Homo sapiens: one gene and its partners. Changing the gene in region 1 together with any one later gene gives a genetic interaction. Each region holds a gene or a part of one and is shown in the gene's direction. Other genes may lie near its edges. The genes, in order: MAN2A1, ARL5A, VPS45 and SEC24A.

The links.
Region 2: changes in MAN2A1 (region 1) and ARL5A together harm fitness more than expected from each alone (negative genetic interaction), as found in Homo sapiens cells (one large-scale study listed by BioGRID).
Region 3: changes in MAN2A1 (region 1) and VPS45 together harm fitness less than expected from each alone (positive genetic interaction), as found in Homo sapiens cells (one large-scale study listed by BioGRID).
Region 4: changes in MAN2A1 (region 1) and SEC24A together harm fitness more than expected from each alone (negative genetic interaction), as found in Homo sapiens cells (one large-scale study listed by BioGRID).

Annotation. Positions count from the first base shown.
Region 1 is NC_000005.10:109,859,635-109,865,421, forward strand, and holds part of MAN2A1 (alpha-mannosidase 2), read left to right. Parts: intron 1-5,401; coding exon 5,402-5,512; intron 5,513-5,787. UniProt on the Homo sapiens protein: Catalyzes the first committed step in the biosynthesis of complex N-glycans. It controls conversion of high mannose to complex N-glycans; the final hydrolytic step in the N-glycan maturation pathway.
Region 2 is NC_000002.12:151,821,162-151,826,948, reverse strand, and holds part of ARL5A (ADP-ribosylation factor-like protein 5A), read left to right. Parts: intron 1-5,787. UniProt on the Homo sapiens protein: Lacks ADP-ribosylation enhancing activity.
Region 3 is NC_000001.11:150,073,338-150,079,124, forward strand, and holds part of VPS45 (vacuolar protein sorting-associated protein 45), read left to right. Parts: intron 1-2,895; coding exon 2,896-2,975; intron 2,976-3,578; coding exon 3,579-3,647; intron 3,648-3,756; coding exon 3,757-3,894; intron 3,895-4,331; coding exon 4,332-4,442; intron 4,443-5,787. UniProt on the Homo sapiens protein: May play a role in vesicle-mediated protein trafficking from the Golgi stack through the trans-Golgi network.
Region 4 is NC_000005.10:134,671,350-134,677,136, forward strand, and holds part of SEC24A (protein transport protein Sec24A), read left to right. Parts: intron 1-459; coding exon 460-537; intron 538-3,265; coding exon 3,266-3,426; intron 3,427-3,695; coding exon 3,696-3,868; intron 3,869-4,673; coding exon 4,674-4,776; intron 4,777-5,787. UniProt on the Homo sapiens protein: Component of the coat protein complex II (COPII) which promotes the formation of transport vesicles from the endoplasmic reticulum (ER).

The DNA of each region.
Region 1 (5,787 bases):
ACTGAAATACACTACATGCAAAAGCCTTGTCATCAGGAAAGGACCATTATTTAAGAAGAAGGGAGATTGGGTAGAGAAGATGCAGGGAGGATCTCATGGGAGGACAGATGATGAGTCAGGCTTCTGAAGCTGGAGCTGCTGGTTCAGCCTGGAATAGAGGGACAAAGAGGAAGCTGGATAAGCTCAGCTTCATGGAGCCATTCTACTTGGAATACTTTAGAAATGTGATATGTAGTTCAGCTTTTTTTTTTTTTTTTAGATTATTTCCACAGCTTTTATATTTAGACATATTTATTTTATATAAACATGATATATATATATATCTTAACTCTTTCTCTATGTAATTTATTTTGATTTGTGTTTAACTGTTTCTTGCAAATAGTTAACCATCATTTCAATATCAGCACCACTTACTGAATAAGATTTTCTCTCTCCACTTGTTCATTCTGCCTCTTCTTTTCTTATAAAAGGCAGTTTGAGGATTTTACTTTATTTGTCTTTCTTATAAGAATTGATTGGTGCTTTATTGATCTCCCTAGCTTCTGGAAAGGTGAAAATTGTGAGAAAAAAAAATTCCTTTGTTGTACGTATCTCAGAACAGCCATTTACCTTCCCTTTCTTTCTGTCATTTTATCTTGTTGATCAAAACAGGATAGCTATTATTGGACATTTTAATGAGCACCCTAAAAAATGAATTTCTACTGGTTATAATACCATCTTAGGACTTATAATGAAGCATGTAATTTTCTAACCTTTCCAGCTGCCAGAATGCACTAGGGATGAGTGTTAGGTATTTTCAAAGAATCTGAGTGGGTTGGAGAAATTTTCCCACCAGATGTGTAGCCGTGCCTTAATCTATGTGCACCTTACTAACCGTGTGAAGAGGGTGGGGTCCCATGCATCCTGGAGAATTTGGCCAAAGTTATGGCCCCTCTCTTCCCCACAAACGGTGGTTGCACACATAATGTTTACTACAGTTTCCAAAAGTTTACTGTTTCTTTTGGTGCGAGAGAGGAATGACATAACTCACATCTTAAGATCTTCAGTAGAGGACTATTCACCTGCTTTTTTCCTTAAAAGAGACTGTCATGTGTGTATAATTTTCAGAATGGCTCAAATCCTATTTGAAGTGGGGTGAATGGATAGGTGGATAGGTGGTAGATGGAAGGAAATTACAATTTCCAAAGCTTGGTTTCTGAATTGATATATTTTTTGATAAGTTATAGTTTTATCTCTGCTGGAACCATCAGTCAATACTCTCCTTTTTCAGCCATAAATTGGAGGGGTTACCTCCTTTAGTTTACAGTATTTTGTTATTTTACATCAAAAATATTTTTTATCTTTTCTCTCCTGGCTAGGTATCTATGAGCACAAATTCATAGCTAGTGCAAAGGTAGGAGAAGGAAGCTGTTAAAAGCTTAAACTTTGGAGTCAGATGTCCTGGGTATGAGCATGTCTCCTTTGCTTTCTAACCATGAGACTTAGAGCAAGTCACTTAACTCTCTGAGTGTCAGGCTACTCCTTAGTAACATGGAGATGGTAATAATACTCACCTTAGAGATGTTCTGAGGATTGGAGATAATTTTAGTGTTAGTAAAGCACTTAGAACAGCATGTGGCACATAGTAAGCCCTATGAGTGCTTGACAAGTAAAGGTTCTCACCTGTGATAGTTCAGTCATGAACAACGGCAGTTGTCACTAATAATGAGGTAAAAACATTGCCAGAGTAAATCTTGATGTCACTTTGACTTATTCCTGATATTTTAGGTTGGTACAAAAGTAATTGCAGTTTTTGCTATTAAAAGTAATGGCAAAGCTACAATTACTTTTGCACCAACTTAATACTTTGTTAATAATTCCTCAGATATTTAAAAATAACATATCTAAAATTGTCTGTTTGCCAGGCATTGTGCCAAGTGCTTTACATGAACTTTATTTAAAGCTCTCACAACAACCCTAAGAAGGTAGGCAATATTTTCATCCCATCTTACAGAATAGGAAAGTAACTGACCTAGAGATATGATAGATAACTGTCAAGGGCACACAGCCAGTAATGTGGTCCTGGGAGCACGCTCAGGTGTGTCTGAGTCCAGATGGCTTCTCAGAACCTTATACTGTCTTGCATGGGAACAAGAAGGGAGAGGGAGCACTGAAAATGTGAGGGAATACACTGTCTATTTTTCTTGTGTCTTCAGTAATAATAGGACACCTACAGAGGATATCCCATCCATTGGCGGGAGAAGACTAAGGGCTAATCCAGGATCACTGGTGGTCATTGCTATTTGAGTATAAGAGAGAATGCTTTGTGATAGAGATTTTCTCGTATATTTACATATTTTAATACAAACTTATATATCACCTCAACTATTTCAAAGGTTGTTGTGCGATAAAATGAGTTAATTGATGAAAAGCATTCTGTACAGGATATGGCACACAGCAAGTGCTCAACAGGTATTAGCAATGACTGATATTGTCACTGCGGTTGACCCTCAGTCTTCAGAGGGACTCTTCACAGGTCCAGCTTAGCTTGCTGAATTTATAGAGGTTTACTCAAAGTCACATAAATGGTTCATGGTAGAAAAAATCATTGGTCTGATCCAGCTTTCTCTAAGCCCAGCTTTATCTGATGGCTTCATTCTGCAAACCAAATCATCTTTCCCCATACTCCACCAAGTTGCTGGAAGAGCCTCAGAGGCCCAGCTTAGTCTATGAGCTGAATGTTGGTTTTATCCCCTGAATTAAGTTTGCAATGGGTTTTCTCTGTGCAACTTTAGAATACGCCAGCCTTACTTCAGTAATTCAGCCTCGAAAGTGATCTAATCTGTTTTACAAAGATAGTTACCTACCACAGTGCTTGGCACAATTTCAAAAATTGTAAATTTTCTTCCCCACATCCTCCCATTTTATGGGGTCCAGATATTACTAATGCATTAATGAATGTAAAAGCAGTTCTTCCAAAATCTGTTTACTCTCCTAGAGCATACAGTGTGACTGCTTGAAGGTATCTGTTTTCCTGCATGCATATTCAAGTTAAATTCACAGTTTCCCTACTTTGAAAAACAGTTTTCTTGGAAATAAAATGTCTAGACAGACTTTGAAACTGAAAAACTGCTGCTTTGCCTCAGGTATTTTTGCTTGAAAACTGATACTTTCATGAATATTTGATTTTTTAAAAACTTGGACAAGATGATTGCTATTTCAGTTCGTTTTTACAAAAGTGATGTAATTTTAGTTTTGAGAGAAAGTATAACTTTTTCTATCAGTGAAAGTTAATTTTTATGACTTTTATCTCTATTTTTGTATTGTCGGTTTAAATCTCTTGTAGAATTCAAATGTAGAATTCCAAAGGTGTTTCCCTCCCCACATTTTTTGTCCCCTTCTGTTGCTATAAAGGCCTTACATATTCATTATTCCAAGAGCAAATGTGTTGCAGGAATTTTAGCCATGCATGCTATCAAGTGATATGTAAGGATGGACCCATGAGTTAAAATGGACAAATGCTTTAGGTTAGTAGTGATATGTGCTTTTAAAAGAGCTTAATGAAGAGGGTTTCTAATCTGTTAATCTGAATCCAGACTTTGTTATGACTTTGATGTACGACTCTAGACATATAATTTAGGAGTTCCCTGAGTCTTTAGCTACAAAGTTGTAATGTCAAATAAAGGAAATTTATGCTAAGGGCTTCCTGTGTGCCAGACATTTGGCCAGATCTTTGTTAAGCTATTTCATTTCATTTCATCTTCATTTTATGGAAAAGGAAAACCTGGTTTTGCTGAAACCCACAGCTAGTAAATTGCAGAGCAAGGATCCAGATCTCCAGCTGTCTGACTCCCCACTCAGGCTCTGAACCACTCTTACTACACAGCTCGTGCACTAGCGCATTCTGCCCTACAAGGCAGTGTGAAGCTACTTACATAGTATTTTCAACAGGTTAATCCACACAGTGACTCCATGAAGGAAATAATACAAGCATTACCTCCATTTTACAGGCAAGAAAATAGATATTTAGGAAGAAGAAATTACTATCCTAAGGTTTCACAGTTGGCACATGATAGAGTCCTGTTTCTTATTCTTTTGGAGATCTAATGATACCATAAATGAAGGGTTTTCCTATGTGTTATTTTTATAGTACATGGGCAGGGTGTTTTAAATGTATTGAAATGAATTAGAAATTTTTATCATATGATTTAAAATTGCTGTGTGTATCATGTGGTCTTGTGATGACTCAGAATTCCTTAAATGACTCTTCTCTTCCTTCAAACAAAATCTTAGCAGTACCCCTACAAAATATCAGTGTGAAACATCATAACATAGGTTATTCCAGCCAAGACTCTGAGGTGAGGACAGCTTTAAACTGTTCAGGCACATTAAAATCAAATCAGTGGTGGAGATTCTGGCAGCTATTCAGGAAAGATGTCTCTTTAGTACATTAAAAAATCTTATCCCCTAGTGAGGATGATCAGGCGTTTGGGCATATTCCTGTCTGTGGCCAGAGAACAGAGGAAAGAATCAGTTTTATCACAATGTCAGTGCTGAGCAGCACATGACTCTTTTCAAAAACTGTATGTTTCTTAATTTTTCCAGGGATTTTTAATTCATTTATCATAAACACCTTCCAACTTTAGGAAACAAAATTTATTAAGATAATTGTATTTTAAAATATTCAGAGGCCTAAACCATTCATGACATTGATACTTAAATGGATATGAGAAATTTTATTGCAAGAAAAGGTATACTGACCCTCTTAGCTGACTTGTCATGTTTAGTATTTTTATTTTTGCCTGCCTATCAACAATAGCTTCTGCAGTATCAATTTAAATGATACATCAAGCTGGTAAATGTGAGCTGGCCTACCAAGTGAAAGCATAACTAAATTTAAATAGCTCTGATATAAAAATAATGAATCAGTACATCAAAGATTAAGAATGCAGTTAGCAAAAATTAATGTTCAATAAAGAAGCATGTGTGACTTTTAAGTTAGATGGTATGTCATTCAATGACCAGATAAGGACTAAGTTCAGGTGCAGTTTATTCAACTGATGTGTGTGTTTGAAAAATAAGACGAAAACATAATGCTTTATTTGAATAAACTTTAATAAAACAATATATAATGTATGGACATAAGGAAACCTAAGTCCTCGGGGATTATAGGGGAAACCAAGGCATGAGGTTACCTAACAAGGAACCTTAGAACATAATCTTACCTGGCTCAGTACAAGTAGGAGAGAATGGTAGCAGGTGAATGGGCAGTGAGCATGGACCTGAGGAGAAATGAATTTGCCTAACTTTCTTGCTAAATAAATGTGCTTTTGGATGCTGACATCGAGAGAGTGGTGTGTGAAGTACCATAAATATTTGCTTTATTGTCTGCGCGGTGTGACTGCATTCTGCTCATTTGCAGGTGGGCAATGGGCACTCCAATGAGGCAGCCTTGATCCTCCACAGAAAAGGGTTTGATTGTCGGTTCTCTAGCAAAGGCACAGGGCTGTTTTGTTCTACTACTCAGGGAAAGGTAAGTTGAAAAGGTTATTTTTGCTTACTGTTAGTGTGCTTTGAAATCCTCTTTCTGCAAAGGATCTTGACAATAAGATCATGTTTCATTGCTTCTTTACTGTCTCAGTTTCATCAGTCTGCAAATTAGTTTGAATCTCCCCATCTGAAAAATGCACTTTCTCAAAACTTCAGCCTCCTTTCCTTGTTGACATCAAAAGGCATAGCTGGAATTTATGCACATTTGAAGGCAATGCTCTTGTTATTTCCTAGGCCTTCTATTTCCAGCCTACAAAG
Region 2 (5,787 bases), on another chromosome or scaffold:
CGCACACACACACACACACAGATGTGTAGGTCACGTGATACCGAAAGAAAGGGCAGTATCAATTTTTCTGATAAGAGGATTTTTCATAAAGTAGAGAAAATCAGTTCTAATCAGCACTGTCTCTGACTGGACTGGCTGTTAGTGTTGGGAGCAGGAGAGTGGGAAGCAGTCACTTGAACTCTCAGGTTTTCTGGTCTAGGTTTTCTCACCTAGAACACCAGGGATCTGTGGAGCTTCCAAATCTTGTAAACTTTATTTCTACATTGCAAATATTAAAACGTACATTGCTGTAAGACTGATGGTACTTATAGTAGATAAGATCTATTCTAGTTTTAACATCCATCATTTTGTATTATTTTTAGCAAAGCTAGTGTTTCATCTGCTGTGAGGTTTAGCAAGACTGTGAATTGAGCTCTAGTGCTGCCAGAAAAAGAGTTATCACCACTTTCTATTTTGAGTCAATGATAAAATTATTTGTTTCTGTAAGTTAAGAATAAATGAGAACTTTGCCAACAGCTCCTTGGAGTAGTAAATAATAAGGGTGTGTGCTCTGGTATCACTACAAATTGCTAATAGTAGTGTTTTTATAACCTGTATTTTGTGGTAATTTTTGACGGGACATTTATGGCAGTTTGGCGGAAATTAATAGAGAAATTAATGAAGTTAAGTTCTAGAAAATTAGATATGAATATTGTGAAAGTGTGAATAAATTATTTATTTTCTGCTAAACAGTGTGGCTGTCTTATCAATAGGGTCACTTTTCCGAATATCCACCATTTAATCTAATGCCAGATATTTGTTGGGTTTTGTTTTTGTTTTTGTTTTTTTGAGATGGAGTCTTGCTCTGTCACCAGGCTGGAGTGCAGTGGTGTGATCTTGGCCCACTGCAACCTGTGCCTCCTGGGTTCAAGCGATTCTCCTGCCTCAGCCTCCCGAGTGGCTGGACTACAGGTGCGTGCCACCACACCCAGCTAATTTTTGTATTTTTTGTAGAGATGGGGTTTCACCACGTTGGCCAGAATGGTCACCATCTCTTGACTTCGTGATCCACCCGCCTTGGGCTCCCAAAGTGCTGGGATTACAGGCCTGAGCCATGGTGCCCAGCAGGGTTGTTTTTTTTTTTTTCTGTATAGGACATATATAAGTTAGATATGTGTTGGATGCTCTTGTTTTACCTTCAGTGGATTCAGAATGCAATCTTACTTTCTTTTCATAGAAACTCTTGGAAAGTATGTTTCGGGAGATTACAGAATTTGCCATCTGATGAAACTTAAACTATGCAGTATCTCCTGTTTCTGAAACCCCTCGAGAACAGCTTTTTCAGTTAAAGCTCAGATTGAGTGCACAGTGAAAGCTATTTGTATACCGCTCGAACTAGAAAAACCAGAGGTCACATTTAGTTGATACTGAGATTCAGTAGAGTACAAACTTTATCCTAGATGCTGTCATTTAAATCATTTTATTTTATTTTATTTTATGTTTTAACAATCTTTTGAAGTAGTTATTTCCCCTGAAAAGGGAAAACTGAGGCTTAAGTGGAATGATTTTTTTTCCCCAGGCCATGCAACTGGTATATGCCAGAGCCAGGCAAGTTAAAACCCTGAAGGAATCTCTTAAAGAAGAGATTGACATCATTTTTCCCTCCCTCCTCCTCCCCCCATTAACTTTTTCAGTTGCTAATCTCTAAGTTGTCTTTAGAACTTCGAAAAGTTGCCATTAGTAACTTTTTTTTATAGAAGAGCTTGTGATCAGTGGTTTACTTGTTCTCAATAAACAAATATTTTAACACCTATTTAGTCCAGGAAGTGTTCTACATGGTGGGATAAGGGAACAAAACAGACAAATTCCACTGCCTTTATGGAGCTTTCATGTAGTGTTGGGAGACAGGAAATTAACTCACTTTGTCTCTACAAGTAAAATAATAGTGGTTAACACTTGTGCAAGGTTCACACAGGTTGTTTGATTTAATATTCACTTAGTTGATTTACTCTTTACAACAACCCTACAAGGTAGATATTATTCCCCTTATTTTACAGGGGTACGGAAACAGGTAACTTGCTTTAAGCACTATAGGTAAAAGTGATAGACCTGGATTTTAACCACGATTACGTAGTGCCGGAGTTATTTCTCCTACGCACACACACCTGGATTTTAACAAGATTATCTAGTGCCAGAGTTAGTTCTACACACACATGCACGCACGCACATTTGCACACAACTTCGTGTAAGAAGGACTTTGTATAAGAAGGACTCAGATAAAAAGAACTGACTGATGTGAACTATAAAAGAAGTTGTGGAATTTCCTCATTAATAGCCTTGTATTGCTCTCTTGGTTGGTTGCTAGAAAAGGAATTATAAGTATGAATGGGTGCAGGAGAAGCTGCCTGTGCTTCAGGAACCTGATGCTGAGGAAGCCACCTCTGTTTCTGGCTTATTATTGTTGTTATTATTATTATTATTATTATTATTAGGGAGTTTAAATGTGTAGAGAAGAGTACATATGGAAGCTGAGTAGCCAAGGGGTAGACTGTGTCTTAGCTTCTAATACAGATGCTCCTCAATTTGTGATAGTTGATAATTTGTGATAGATAGATAATTGAAAATACAGTAAGTAAAAAATGAGTTTAATATGCCAGACTTACTGAAAACCATGGCTTTAGCCTAGCTTGCTTTATACGTGCTCAGAACATTTATGTTAGTTTACAGGTTGGCAAAATCTAACCCAAAGCCTATTTTATAATAAAGGTTGAATATCTCGTGTAATTTATTGAATACTGTACTGAAAGTGAAAAACAGAATCTTTGCATGGGTACTCGAAGTATGGTTTCTACTGAATGTGTGTTGCTTTTACAACATCACAAGTCAGAGACCATTTGTAAACCCTTTTTGCATGCTCTGTGGAAGTGGAGCTAGGTCCTTTAAACGTTTTTCTTTTGCCACTGGGCAAAATGTTAAGTTTTGTCAGTAGGCTGCACTGGAGAGGCATTGTAGGAGGAAAGGGTGTTTGTACTTAGTTATAGTGTGCTTTCTTGACGGGCTCTGCTTGTAGCATGAACACCGTCTCCAAGGCCTGGCTCTTGTACTGCATAGTGGTCAGCAGCAGCCAACAGCTTCCCCTAGTACCCGTCTTAGTTGGTTTCATAATGGAAGGTCTCCAGTGAAATACCTCTCAATAAACAGTTTTCCTCAGCACCGAAGAGGGAGGATTTTTGGGCAGGTTCCACTGGCACCTCACCACAGCTACTTCTCTGCCATTCAGTGAGCCACTATCTGTGCCCTCCAACGAGATCTGCATCTTAAGTCTGGAGGGAGGGGGAGGACCTTTATCTCAACCCTAGGGATAGTGAGTGCTTCTTAAATTTGACATTCCCATAATCTTTTAGCCAATCTCTCATTACTCCAGTCCCCTGTAATATTTTTTTGATGTTGAACTTTCCAAGTTCAAATTATTGTGTGATTTCTGCCTCCTGATTGGATCTCTAATTTTGCCATGTGTAATCATTGCTTTTTTTTTTCAGCAACCTCATAGTGCAAAAGAAAATTTGGTTATTCCCCTGAAACTTAATTTACCATTACTGTAATAGCAAGTTTATTTTCAAACTTTCTTTTTATTGTTAAGACTTTTAAGTTTTAAAAATTGAACTTTTAATACAAAACGACTTAAGCAGATATCTCTCTCCTAACCTTTATATTTTCCAGATCTGATTTATTTATTCATGAAAAATATTAAGCTCATGCTTTATTCCAGGAGCTGTCCTATGGACTAAGAGAACTATAGTGAATATGACAAATGGAATTTTTTGCTCTGAGAGACATAGAATTAATAGGGCTTAGTGATAGTTCAGATATGAGGTAAAAATGATGAATCAAGAGGACTCTCCATTTATTTGCCCTGGTGTTTTTGTGTTTTCTGATGTTGTATGATTCACAGAGATAGTAATTCTCTACAATAACAATTATTATTATGCTTAATTTATTGACTGATGAGTTGGGGGAATATATATTAACTTTTAAAAACTGGCAATGAATGGAACTGGTAGACTGCCTGTGTCAAAAGGAAATGAAGGAAAAGGGAAACAAGAAGCAATTTTCATGACAAAACAGTAAAGTATTGATTGGTATGTTAAAGCCTAATTGGTAACTCACAGTTCCATCAAAGCATTAGAACAGTGCAGTTGTTGTGGCTTATTTGAGTAAATACAGGAATGCTGTGACATAGTCTAAAAGAAAAATCATACTAAGCAGTAAACTTCTGATGATTCTTGTGCATCAAAGAGTTGGAATGGCTGAAAGTTTTATTGCATTTGTCCACAATAACATTCTTGTAGTAGGCATATTGGGATTCTATGAAGTCTTTATTTCGAAGTGCATTATAGCACTTTTTGGCTACAAATTTACATTTTGTATAGATGCTTTTCCATCTTGCTAATGAAAGGAACAGGCTGTGGTGGTGAGAGTAAGGATGTTCAGAGGAAATTGATCTACTATTAAAAACTTTGTGACTAATCTGACCCTATTATTGAGATGACACGTTTGTCTTTGAGCCCATTGCACAGTTTGGTCTTAATTTTATAGTTCTCATTGTGACCCACATGCTATGTCTTAGATTTAGGAAGCTATTAAAAATGGTCATTGGTGGCCGGGACGCAGTGGCTCATGCCTGTAATCCCAGCACTTTGGGAGGCCAAGGCAGATGGATCACCTGAGGTCAGGAGTTCAAGACCAGCTTGGCCAACATGGCAAAACCCCTATCTCTACTAAAAATACAAAAATTAGGCCAGGCACAGTAAACTTCTGATGATTCACGTGCAGGTGGTTCACACCTGTAATCCCAGCACTTTGGCAGGCCGAGGCAGGTGGATCATGAGGTCAGGAGTTCAAGACCAGCCTGGCCAATATGGTGAAATCCTGTCTCTACTAAAAATACAAAAATTAGCTGGGCGTGGTGGTGCGCACCTGTAGTTCCAGCTACTCGGGAGGCTGAGGCAGGAGAATCCCTTGAACCTGGGAGGCAGAGGTTGCAGTGAGCCGAGATCATGCCATTGCACTCCAGCCTGGGCGACAGGGCGAGACTCCATCTCTAAATAAATAAATATAAATAAATTAAAAAATTAGCTGGGCATACGGCGAGACTCCGTCTCAAAAAAAAAAAAAAAAAAGAAAAAAAAAAAAAGAAAGCCGGGCATGGTAGTGCCTGCCTGTAGTCCCAGCTGCTTGAGAGGCTGAGGCAGGAGGAGAATCGTTTGAACCTGGGAGGTAGAGGTTTCATTGAGCCAAGCTCACACCACTGCACTCTAGCCTGGGCAACAGCGAGACTGCGTCTCAAAAAAGTCATTGGTGCTTTATTGTGAAAATACAAAAAAACTCAAATAGAGCTACGTCTTGGGAGGAAGCAACTAGAACTTTGTAATGAATGTAGTTTGTAGGTGTTTGGGTGGAGTAAGGAGGTAAAGATCCTCTGGATCATGGATTCTTCATTGGAATGGCCCTCCAGAGATCTCAGACCACATGACTACATGTGGTTTTTTTGGATATTTTCCAGGTTCTGCTTATGTTTGATTGGAGTTTCTTTCCTCCTTTTTGTTTTTGAAGTATTTTAACCATTTGGTAAGAATATGATATGTTCAAATATATTAGTTTGGTTTCCCTTGATTGACTTTAGAAATCTGCTTAGGTCTTAAGAGTTTGGGGGCATGGTTGCATATTTATGCATTTGTAAGTATATAGGAATTCATTGAATTTGTAAAATAGGTAGGCAGAAGAGTAAGATTGTAGTGTGGAGAATGG
Region 3 (5,787 bases), on another chromosome or scaffold:
CAGCGTATACTACTTAAATAGAATAATGATACAAAAAATTAACATTTGCGAAAAGACTATATATATATAAGAGCTCTCTCATATTTTATTTCATTCAGTTCTGTGTAGAATTGAAAAGTTACATAAAGCTTGTCCAGTGGGTTTTCAGTGCACGACGCCCCAAGAGGTAAAAATAGGCAATTTTATTAATCTGTGGCAACTTAATTTTTGTTTGTTTTTGTCTGTTTGTTTTTGGCTAATAGTCACAGGTTTTCTTTTTAAAATTAAACTTTCTATTTTGAAGTAATTGTAGATTCATGTGCAGTTAAAAAAAAAACAACGAATAATAATACAGAGATCCCAGATACCCTTTACCCAGCTTCCCCCTGTGTAGTATCTTACATGATGATAGTACAATATCACAACCAAGATGTTAACACTGATACAGTCAGGATACACAACATTTTCATCTCTATAAGGATCCCTTTTATTAGCTTATATGGACTTCTGTCCCACCCCAACCCCCTCATTAACCCTGGTAACCACTAATATTTTCTCCATTTTATATTTTGTCATTCGAAGAATGTTCTATAAATGAAATCATACAGCATATAATCTTTTGGGACTGGCTTTTTTCACTCAGCATAATTCTCTGGAGAGTCATCCAGGCTGTTCTGTGTGTGTGTGTGTGTTGTTTTTGTTTTTTTTTTTTGTCCGAGAAGCAGTCTTGCTTTGTCACCCAGGCTGGAGTGCAGTGTCGCCATCTCAACTCACTGCAACCTCCACCTCCCGGGTTCAAGCGATTCTCCCACCTCAGCCTCCCGAGTAGCTAGGATTACAGGTACACACCACCACGCCCAGCTAATTTTTGTATTTTTTTTTAGTAGAGACAGGGTTTCACCGTGTTGGTTGTCCAGACTGGTCTCAAACTCCTGACCTTGGGTGATACGCCCGCTTCAGCCTCCCGAAGTACTGGGATTACAGGCATGAGCCACCACACCTCACCTGTTGTGTGTATTAATAGTTCATTCCTCCTTTGAGCTGGAACTGCAAAAAAAAAAGTTTTCTTAATTTAAAAATAGTTCATTTCTTTTTATTGCTGAGTAGTATTCCATGGTATGAATGTACCACAGTTTGTTTAACTATACACCATTGAAGGACATATGAGTTATTTCCAGTTTTGGCTATTACAAATAAAGCTGCTATAAATATCTGTGTACAGATTTTTATGTGAACATTAAGTCTTCATTCTCTGGGGTAAATAACCCCCAGGAGTGCAACTGCTGAGTCATATGGTAATTCCATGTGTGATCTGCCCACCTTGGCCTCCCAAAGTGATGGGATTACAGGTGTGAGCCACCGCACCGAACTTTTAAAGACATACAAAAGTAGAATAGTATCATAAGTTCCAATGTACCTATCAGCTGGTTTCAACAATTATTGAGCCTCACCCAATCTTGTTTTAGCTATACTGTCACCTACTTCTCCAGCAATATTATTTTAAAGCAAATCTAAGACATTATATAATTTTATCCATAAGTATTTCAGTAGGCATCTCTAAAAGATAAGGACTCATTTTTTTAAAAAACACATTTCCATTATTACATCTAGATTAAAAGTGAAAAATAATTATTTATTCTTTTTTTTTTTTTTTTTTTTTTTTGAGACACAGTCTCCCTCTGTCACCCAGACAGAGTGCAGTGGCATGATCTCGGCTCACTGTAACCTCAACTTCCCAGGTTCAAGTGATGTTGCCCAGGCTGGTCTTGAACTCTTAGTACCATTTTCAAATAACCATTCAGCGTTCAAATTTAAAATTGTCTTTTTTTTTTTTTTTTTTTACAGTTTTTTAAAATCAGGATCAAAGTAAGGTTCACACATTGCTGTTGGTTGATATGTTAAGTTTCTTAATCTTCTGTATAGGTCCTCCCACCCCTGCCCCTGCTGCCCCATGCAATTTATTTATTGAAGAAACTGTTAAGTTTTCCACAGACTGGATCTTGCTGATTGCATCCCCAGGGGGTAGTTTAACATGTTCCTTGAAGTTTAAAATATTCCTCTGTCTTCTAGTTCCTGTAAATTCATAGGTGAATACAGAGCCTTAATTAGGTTAAGATTTGATTTCTTCTTGGCAAGAATACTTTATAGGTGGTATTGTGTGCTTTCATTGGCTGCTTATTCTTTTGATATTAGTAGCTGCTGATGCTCAATGCCTGGGTCCATTCAATTGATTCATTGGGGGTTAGAAAAAATGATGATATTCTAATTCTGTCATTAACATTTGTTAGTTATTGTTGAGCTGGAATGTTTTCACAAAGAAAAATTTTCCCTCATCTATTTGGTTACCTGGTAGTACAGTTTATATATAAAAGACAGCATGAAAGTTTACTTCTTTCTCCTTATTTTCAATAAAATGACTTACTTCCCTAGTATTCTCATTCTCCAATTCCTCCGATGGAGTCTTCCTCTATCGCCCAGGCTGGAGTGCAGTGGCCTGATCTGGGCTCACTGCAAGCTCTGCCTCCTGGGTTCATGCCATTCTCCTGTCTCAGCCTCCCGAGTAGCTGGGACTACAGGCGTCCGCCACCACGCCCAGCTAATTTTTTTTTGTATTTTTAGTAGAGACGGGGTTTCACCGTGTTAGCCAGGATGGTCTCGATCTCCTGACCTCATGATCCACCTGCCTCAGCCTCCCAAAGTGCTGGGATTACAGGTGTGAGCCACCGCGCCTGGCCAGTCCTTTTAAAATATATATATATATATATATAAAATTATGAATTTGTGGATTAAATATATTTTTGCTACCCATTCCAATTTGAAGGTCACTTATTCATTAGGCTTTAACTATCAGGCCCTTTTACATATATTGCAGCAGAAATTATCTCCTTTGAGTCAACCCCAACTCATGTGTTTCAGATTTCAGTAATGTGATCAGCAAGAGTGACGTGAAGTCATTGGCTGAAGCTGATGAACAGGAAGTTGTGGCTGAGGTTCAGGTAAACATATTGGTCCTGTAACACATCTCGTATGTTGGCCCTTTTTAAATATTTGAGTCTAAAAATAAAAAATAAGGAAAGGTCTGTCTCAAAAGAAGTTTTATTATGAATACTTGAATATGTTTATCACATAAATGAGGAATATTGTTTTCAGAGGCAGCAAATAAACTAGTTTTGAATTTTTCAGAAGGATGTGATAGGTGATAAATGAATAAAAAGAATACCTGTTTTAAATTATATTCTCTCTCATGACAACACATTGGACAGCAAAGTTCTTTTTTATCTGAGTAGAACATTGTATCTCCTATTAGCAGTATTTTATTTTTACTAATTGATAAGTATGCATAGAGGTCTCCAGAAATATAATGTGTATAACCTTACAACCTTTATTTGTTAGATTTATTATTATTGCTACTGTTTTGTAATTATTTTAATTCTCCCACGTTGACTGTTGTTACCCAATTATTAATTGAACAATTTAGTATCTCTTTACACCTGTATTTCACAAAGTTTGGCTATATCATATTATATCACTTATGAAAATATTACTGCTTGATACAATTGAAGTTTATGGAATGACTATTCTTGGTGCTTTATTTGCAGGAATTTTATGGTGATTACATTGCTGTGAACCCACATTTGTTTTCCCTCAATATTTTGGGTTGCTGCCAGGTATGGAAGGAAAGGTTTAATTTATCAGTCGAGAGTTAATTCAGCAAATAATTAGACTTGTAAGAGAAAATTCAAATATTTTCTCTGAATATATGTTTTTAACAAAAAGGGTCGAAATTGGGATCCAGCCCAGCTATCTAGAACAACTCAAGGGCTTACAGCTCTCCTTTTATCTCTGAAGAAGTGTCCCATGATTCGTTATCAGCTCTCATCAGAGGCAGCAAAGAGACTTGCAGAGTGCGTTAAGGTATGGCATTACCTATTCCTGGTTCCAAAACATAAAGGCCATTCATTTCTCTATCATATTTCAGAAACTAAAGGAATAGTTTATTTACAACCAAGGAGATGATTGTATGTTAGGTTTCCGCGAAAAGAGGTAGGTATATGTAATTTAAAACAAAAAGCAACAATTAGAGCTAAGATTCTTAGGTTTAACCCAAGAAACATTCACAAGCTATTTAACTTTTTTTGGTCCAGTTAAACCACTTATAAAATAGGGTTTCATATCCTAACCTCTTAAATAGTATGCTACTAAACTTTGTGAGACTTTTGAATCCTTCATATGGAAGATCTATGTGGGTGCAAAGAACTATTGTTAAATGTAGTGTTTATTAATTTCCTATTTATATCATTTCTATATGTAACTAGATGGTTGCACAAACCATCTTTCTCTCTCACCCACAGCAAGTGATAACTAAAGAATATGAACTGTTTGAATTCCGTCGGACAGAGGTTCCTCCATTGCTCCTTATTTTAGATCGCTGTGATGATGCCATCACCCCATTGCTAAACCAGGTACAAAACCCTTTCTTGGCATAATAGAAGGATAATTTTAAGTGATATTCATCAAAATACAGATAGGGAAGTAAAAACATGGTCCATTTATTTGCCTCCTTATTTTTAGCTATTCTTGGTTTTGCTTTGTATTTCCTGGTGTTTTGGTATCATGATTCTTCCATCCACTGTCATCATAACTCTTCTGCTTCATCTCTCCTGTACCTTTCTGCCAGTACCTCCACCCCTAATCAAGACAGCTTCTTAATTCTGTAGATTCTATTTCCCTGTGTTTCCTTCTGTCTCCTCATTTCCATGCTTACAGCCATTGCCTTGGTCTAGATCCTAATCTCTTGCAAGAATATTGAAATAGTCATCTACTTCGTTCCCTACTTTTTATTTCTTCTCACTCCAAATGTTCCACAAGTACAATTTCCTAAAGCACAGCTCTATCTTATTACTCTTGGCTTAAAAAACTTCATTGGTTCCCATTTGCCTACTAGGTTAAAAAGAAACTCCTGAACTTGGCATCCAAGAGCCTTCACAATGTGGGCTAAACCTCTTATAAAACCTAGAGTTCACCACTTACATAGATAATGCCACATGGTTTCCTGCCAGCATGCTTTTACTGTGACTGCTTTCTAAACTCTAGAATGTTTGGAATACCTTCTCTTCCCATCTTCACCTATCAAAATACTGCTGTTAAAACCACTCAATCTGGCCGGGCACGGTCGCTCACGCCTGTAATCCCAGCACTTTGGGAGGCCAAGGTGGCTGGATCACCTGAGGTCAAGAGTTCAAGACTAACCTGGCCAACATGGTGAAGCCCCGTCTCTACTAAAACTACAAAAAAATTAGCCGGGTGTGGTTGCACACACCTGTAGTCCCAGCTACTTGGGAGGCTGAGGCAGGAGAATCATTTGAACCCAGGAGGCGAAGGTTGCAGTAAGCTGAGATCATGCCACTGCACTCCAGCCAGGGCGACAGAGCAAGACTCCGTCTCCAAAAATAAATAAATAAATAAATAAAATGATTTATATGAATAATAGCAAAGAATAAAAAAAAGAAGAGCCGGGCGCGGTGACTCACACCTATAATCCCAGCACTTTGGGAGGTCGAGGTGGGTAGATCACCTGAGGTCCTGAGTTTGAGACCAGCCTGGCCAACATGATGAAACCCTGTCTCTACTAAAAATACAAAAAATTAGCTGGACGTGGTGGCAGATGCCTGTAATCCCAGCTACTCAGGATGCTGAGGCAGGAGAATCACTTGAACCTGGGAGGCAGAGGTTGCAGTGAACCGAGATCATGCCACTGTCCTCCAGCCTGGGCAACGAGAGCGAAACTCTTGTCTCAAAAAAAAAAAA
Region 4 (5,787 bases), about 25 Mb from region 1:
GCACCTGGCCTCTTTTTCTTTAGGTAGTTTTGATTTTGATAATTTTTTTTCATTGTGTACTGCTCCTTAGAGGTTTTTAATGCAGCTCTCACAACTGCTGAAATCTTTCAGATGGTATATAATTTTATAAACTTCATAAAGAACCATCTTTTGCTAGAAGTTATTTTGCTGGAGTAGGTTTTGAAAAAGCCTTGTTATTTGGGCCTTTGGCTTAGGTACAATGTAAGGTGAAAAAAGACTCTTTCCAAAGACTCATGTTTCCTTTCCCTGAAGTTGCAGCTAAATTACTTGAAACTATCGTATATGTAAAAACTTGGATTTTTTATGTTGTTAATAGGCTGTGGTTTTAAATTATTTGTTGTTTAGAAAATTATTTAAAATTTTGGATATTAGTTAAAATCATACAGAGATTGTAATAATCATTCTAATTAAAATCTTGTTGATGAACTTCCTTCTTAGGTATTACATCAAATACCAATAACGGATCTATGGTGGTCCACAGTAGTTACGACGAGATTGAAGGAGGTGGCTTATTGGGTGAGATGCTATGAAAGTTTTTTTTTTAATCTCTTTTTTCTGATTATAGAAATAATATGTGGTAATTGTACAAATATATAGGAAACTAAGAGGGAAACTTCATAATCATGTAGCCATACATACTATTAACTTATTTATTTATTTATTTGGACACAGGGTCTCACTCTGTCGCTCAGGCTGGAGTGCAGTGGTGCGATCATGGCTCACTGCAGCCTCAGTCTCCTGGGCTCAAGCAGTCCTCCCACCTCAGCCTCCTGAGTAGCTGGGACCATAGCCACGTGTCACCATGCCCAGCTTTTTGTTTTTGTTTTTGTTTTTTGAGACTGAGTCTCGCTCTGTTGCTTAGGCTGGAGTGCAGTGGCAGTATCTCGGTTCACTGCAGCCTCTGCCTCCTGGGTTCAAGTGATTCTCCCACTTAAGCCTCCCAGTTAGCTGGTATTAGAGGCACCCGCCACCACACCCTGCTGATTTTTGTATTTTTAGTAGAGACAGGGTTTCACCATGTTGGCCAGGCTGTCCTCTAACTCCTGACCTCAAGTGATCTGCCCGCCTCGGCCTCCCAAAGTGCTGGGATTATAGGCATGAGCCACCATGCCCAGGCCCTGGCTAATTTTTGTATTTTTTGTAGAGGCAGGGTTTCACCATGTTACCCAGGCTGGTCTTGAATTCCTGGGCTCAAGCGATCTGCCCATTTTGCCTCCCAAAGTGCTGGGATAATAGGCATGTGCCATAACATCTGGCTCTATTATTTAACATTTTTTATTTCTATGCATTAGATTTTTTGTTAAGTTTTTCTTCTGTCAGAATTGGGATCATGGATTTATTATTATTATGTTTTGACTATAGAGTACTTTTAGGATTTTTTTTTTTTGAGACAGGGTCTCTGTCACCCAGGCTCAAGTGCAGTAGCACTGTTATAGCTCACTGTAGCCTCAAACTCCTGGGCTCGTGCGATCTTCTACCTCACCCTCCCTGAGTAGCAGGGACTATAGGCATATGGTACCATGCCAGGCTAGTTTTTTTATTTTTGTAGAGATGGGGGGGTGGGTCTCAATATATTGCCTGGGCTGGTCTCGAACCCTTGGCTTGAAGAGATCCCTCCTGCCTTGGTTCCCCGATTTGCTGGGATTACAGGTGTGAACCATCTCACACGGCCCATTTAGGATTTTTTTTTTTTTTTTTTTTCTGAGATGGATTCTTGCTGTGTCGCCCAGATTGGAGTGCAGTTGTGTGATCTTGGCTCACTGCAACCTCCAACTCCCTGGTTCAAGCGATTCTCCTGCCTCAGCTTCCCGAGTAGCTGGGATTACAGGCACGTGCCACCACGCCCAGTTAATTTTTGTATTTTTAGTAGAGATAGGGTTTAACCACGTTGGCCAGGATAGTCTCGATCTCCTGACCTTGTGATCCACCTACCTCGGCCTCCCAAAGTGCTGGGATTACAGGTATGAGCCACCTCGCCCTGCCAGGATGTTATAATTAAAGTTGTTTTGAATTAAAATTTTAGTCTGAATACAAAATTTAGTACATGATATGAAAGTAAATTAACTGTTCTTTTGTTTTGTTGTTTTTGTTTTTGTTTTTGTTTTTGTTTTTGAGACAGTTTCCCTCTGTCGTCCAGGCTGGAGTGCAGTGGGCACAATCTCGGCTCACCTCCACCTCCTGGATTCAAGCAGTTCTACCACCTCAGCCTCTCAAGTAGCTGGAACTACAGGCACATGCCACCACATCTGGGTAATTTTTGTACTTTTTAGTAGTGATGGGATTTCACTGTGTTGGCCAGGCTGGTCTCCAACTCCTGACCTCAAAGTGATCCACCCACCTCAGCCTCCCAAAGTGCTGGGATTACAGGCATGAGTCACCACACCCAGCCGACATGAAAGTAAATTAACTGTGCAAACTAGTTTTTGTGTCTACTACTATAGTATAAAATATTAACTAGTGTAAATCCATTAACAAGATTTTTGGCCGGGCACGGTGGCTCATGGCCTGTAATCCTATCTTCGGGAGGCCAAGGCAGGCAGATCACCTGAGGTCAGGAGTTTGAGACCAGTCTGACCAACGTAGTAAAACCCCATCTCTACTAAAAATACAAAAATTAGGTGGTGTGGTGGCACACACCTGTAGTCCCAGCTACTCGAGAGGCTGAAGCAGGAAAATCGCTTGAACCCGGGAGGTAGAGGTTGCAGTGAGCCAAGGTTGTGTCACTGCATTCCAGCCTGGGCGACAGAGTGAGACTCCATCTCGAAAAATAAAATGATAAATAAAATAAAATAAATAGATTTTAGTCATTGCTATTTGTTACTGGTGTTTGTCTTATTTTAAAAATTTGATAAATGAAAGTATTAAATTATCCAAAGAATTTTGGAGTTATAATACCTATAACTTATTAGATTTATGTGTTGATTTAAAGCATTCTGGGCCAGGCATGGTGGCCTACGCCTGTAATCCCAGCCTGGACAACATGGTGAAGTCCCGTCTCTACAAAACATACAAAAACATTAGCCGGGCATGATGGCACACACCAGTCATTCCAGCTACTTGGGAGGCTGACACAGGAGGATCACTTGAACCTAGGAGGTTAAGGCTGCAGTGAGGTGTGATTGCACCACTGCACTGCAGCCTGGGCAATAGTGAGACCCTTTCTCCAAAAAAAATGTTTTTTTAAAATAAATAAATCAAGTATTCTGGAGTATAAAATAGAACTTAAAAGTTACCTTGTTTCTAGCAACACCACAGCTTACTAACAAGAATCCCAAAATGAGCCGAAGTGTTGGATATTCATATCCCTCCTTACCACCTGGTTATCAGAACACAACACCACCTGGTGCAACTGGAGTACCACCCTCTTCCTTGAATTACCCAAGTGGGCCACAAGCCTTTACTCAGGTAAACTTTTTGGGATTTTCTTTAACCTATTTCTCCATTTGGTTTAAACTGTATACACATGAAGAAAGTTTTAGGAAGGTATATTATACATTTTTATAACCATTTAGAATAATAATGGATATTTCATAAAGCCTTTGTCTTTATACATTTTTCCAGAACCAAAAGATTGGCCAAGAGATCTAGATTACACTTTTGTTATTTACAGAGAAATTAACCACTTCCCTACACACTTAATAAAAGTTACTTACTTTAAAATTATGTATCTGTAGACTCCCTTAGGTGCTAATCATTTAACCACAAGCATGAGTGGATTAAGTCTACAACCAGAGGGTCTAAGAGTTGTCAATCTTCTTCAAGAAAGAAACATGCTTCCGTCAACACCTTTGAAGCCTCCAGTTCCAAATTTGCATGAAGACATCCAGAAACTCAACTGTAACCCAGAGTAAGGCTTCAGATGTGACATTATGCATGTCCGAAAAGTTTTCTAGCTTTTTGCAGGGGGCACATCAGGTGTTATGAATAAGCTGTACAAATTATTAATTTATGAAAGTTCTGGATACAGATGATAGAACTCTTTTACTTGTTTACTTAATAGAGATTTGAAAAGTCCTACGTCAAGAAATAGGGATGTAACTCCTGAAGTGATTTTGTTCTTATCAGCTCTAATGAGATTATGATATTCATTATCATTATGGTGGTTACTTTCTTTCTTCAAAATCCAAAGTACAGGGATTTGTTTCTACATAATCCTTTATTTGCTCTCATTTAAAATTAATTTCATAACAAACATAATACCTTTTTTTCCTAAAAACTTACCATAAGCTTAAATGTATATGATCAATAATTTCTGATAAATTAAATTTGGTACCTTTAAATTGTATTTAGAATCTTCAGCAAAACTGAACTTTTAAATAATAGACTTTGCAATTTGGGCCATCACCTAAGTTTAATTTAATTCCAGTGTCAACTAGACTTACAAAACAAAAAATAAGTCATTTGATAGTTTAGACTGTTTTACACACAAGCCAAAAAGAGACTATATTTTAGTTATAGGATAACCATCCACTCTATTTCTGCATAGGACTTAGATTTAAATATTTAAATGGGATAAAATTTTGAGACTCTATTGAAATATTTCATCTGTAATCTGATCCAGTATTAAAATGTATACCTTTTAAATCTTTGTTGTTGTTTTCTTCAAAAATAATCATAGCAGCAACTGATACATACTTTTTACTTTGATATAGGTTATTTCGATGCACGCTGACTAGCATTCCTCAGACGCAGGCCTTATTGAATAAAGCCAAACTTCCTTTGGGGCTGCTGCTTCATCCTTTCAAAGACTTAGTGGTATGTTTCTTTTCTTTTCTTTTTTTTTTTTTGAGACGGAGTCTCCCTCTGTCGCCCAGGCTGGAGTGCAGTGACGCAGTCTCAGCTTATTGCAACCTCTGCCCTCCATGTTCAAGTGATTTTCCTGCCTCAGCCTCCCTAGTAGCTGGGATTACAGGTGCCTGCCACCGTGCCTGGCTAATTTTTGTATTTTTAGTAGAGAGGGGGTTTCACCATCTTGGCCAGGCTGGTCTTGAACTCCTGACCTCGTGATCCACCTGCCTTGGCCTCCCAAAGTGCTGGAATTACAGGCGTGAGCCTCTGCGCCCGGCTCTTTTTTTTTTTTTTTTTTTTTTTCTGAGACTGGGTCTCACTGTCGCCCAGGCTGGAGTGTAGTGGCGAGATCTCGGCTCACCGCAATCTCCGCCTCCCAGGTTCGGGCAATTCTCTTGCCTCAGCTTCCTAAGTAGCTGGCATTATAGGCATCTGCCACCACACCCAGCTAATTTTTTTATTTTTAGTAGAGATGGTGTTTCACCATGTTGGCCAGACTGGTCTCGAACTGACCTCAAGTGATCTGCCCACCTCCCAAAGTGCTGGGATTTATAGGCCTGAGCCACTACACCCGGCCTCTTTAGTGAAGGTAAATGTCTTTTGTGCAAAATTATCTTGGTGATGAAAATTTTCTGCAATGATGCAAGAATTACATATAGAATTTGTTTGATCTGTCTTTAGGAAGTCGATGATTGACAGATTACTTACAATTCAACCAAAAATTTTATTACTAAACACTTTCAAATACTAGGTAAAGTAAGTATATTGCTGGAAAATTCAAAAAGTACTGAATAGAATAGAGGTACTGAGAGAAACTAAATAAATGAATCATACTATTTTAATAGGTTGTGAATTATTTACCCATTAAAGTACTTTACCCTAGTCTCCCCGTTCTGCCATCCTTGCAGTAAAATTTGTTATTTTAAAAAGTTGTTTTAAGCCAGACATGGTGGCTCATGGCCTGTAATCCCAGCACTT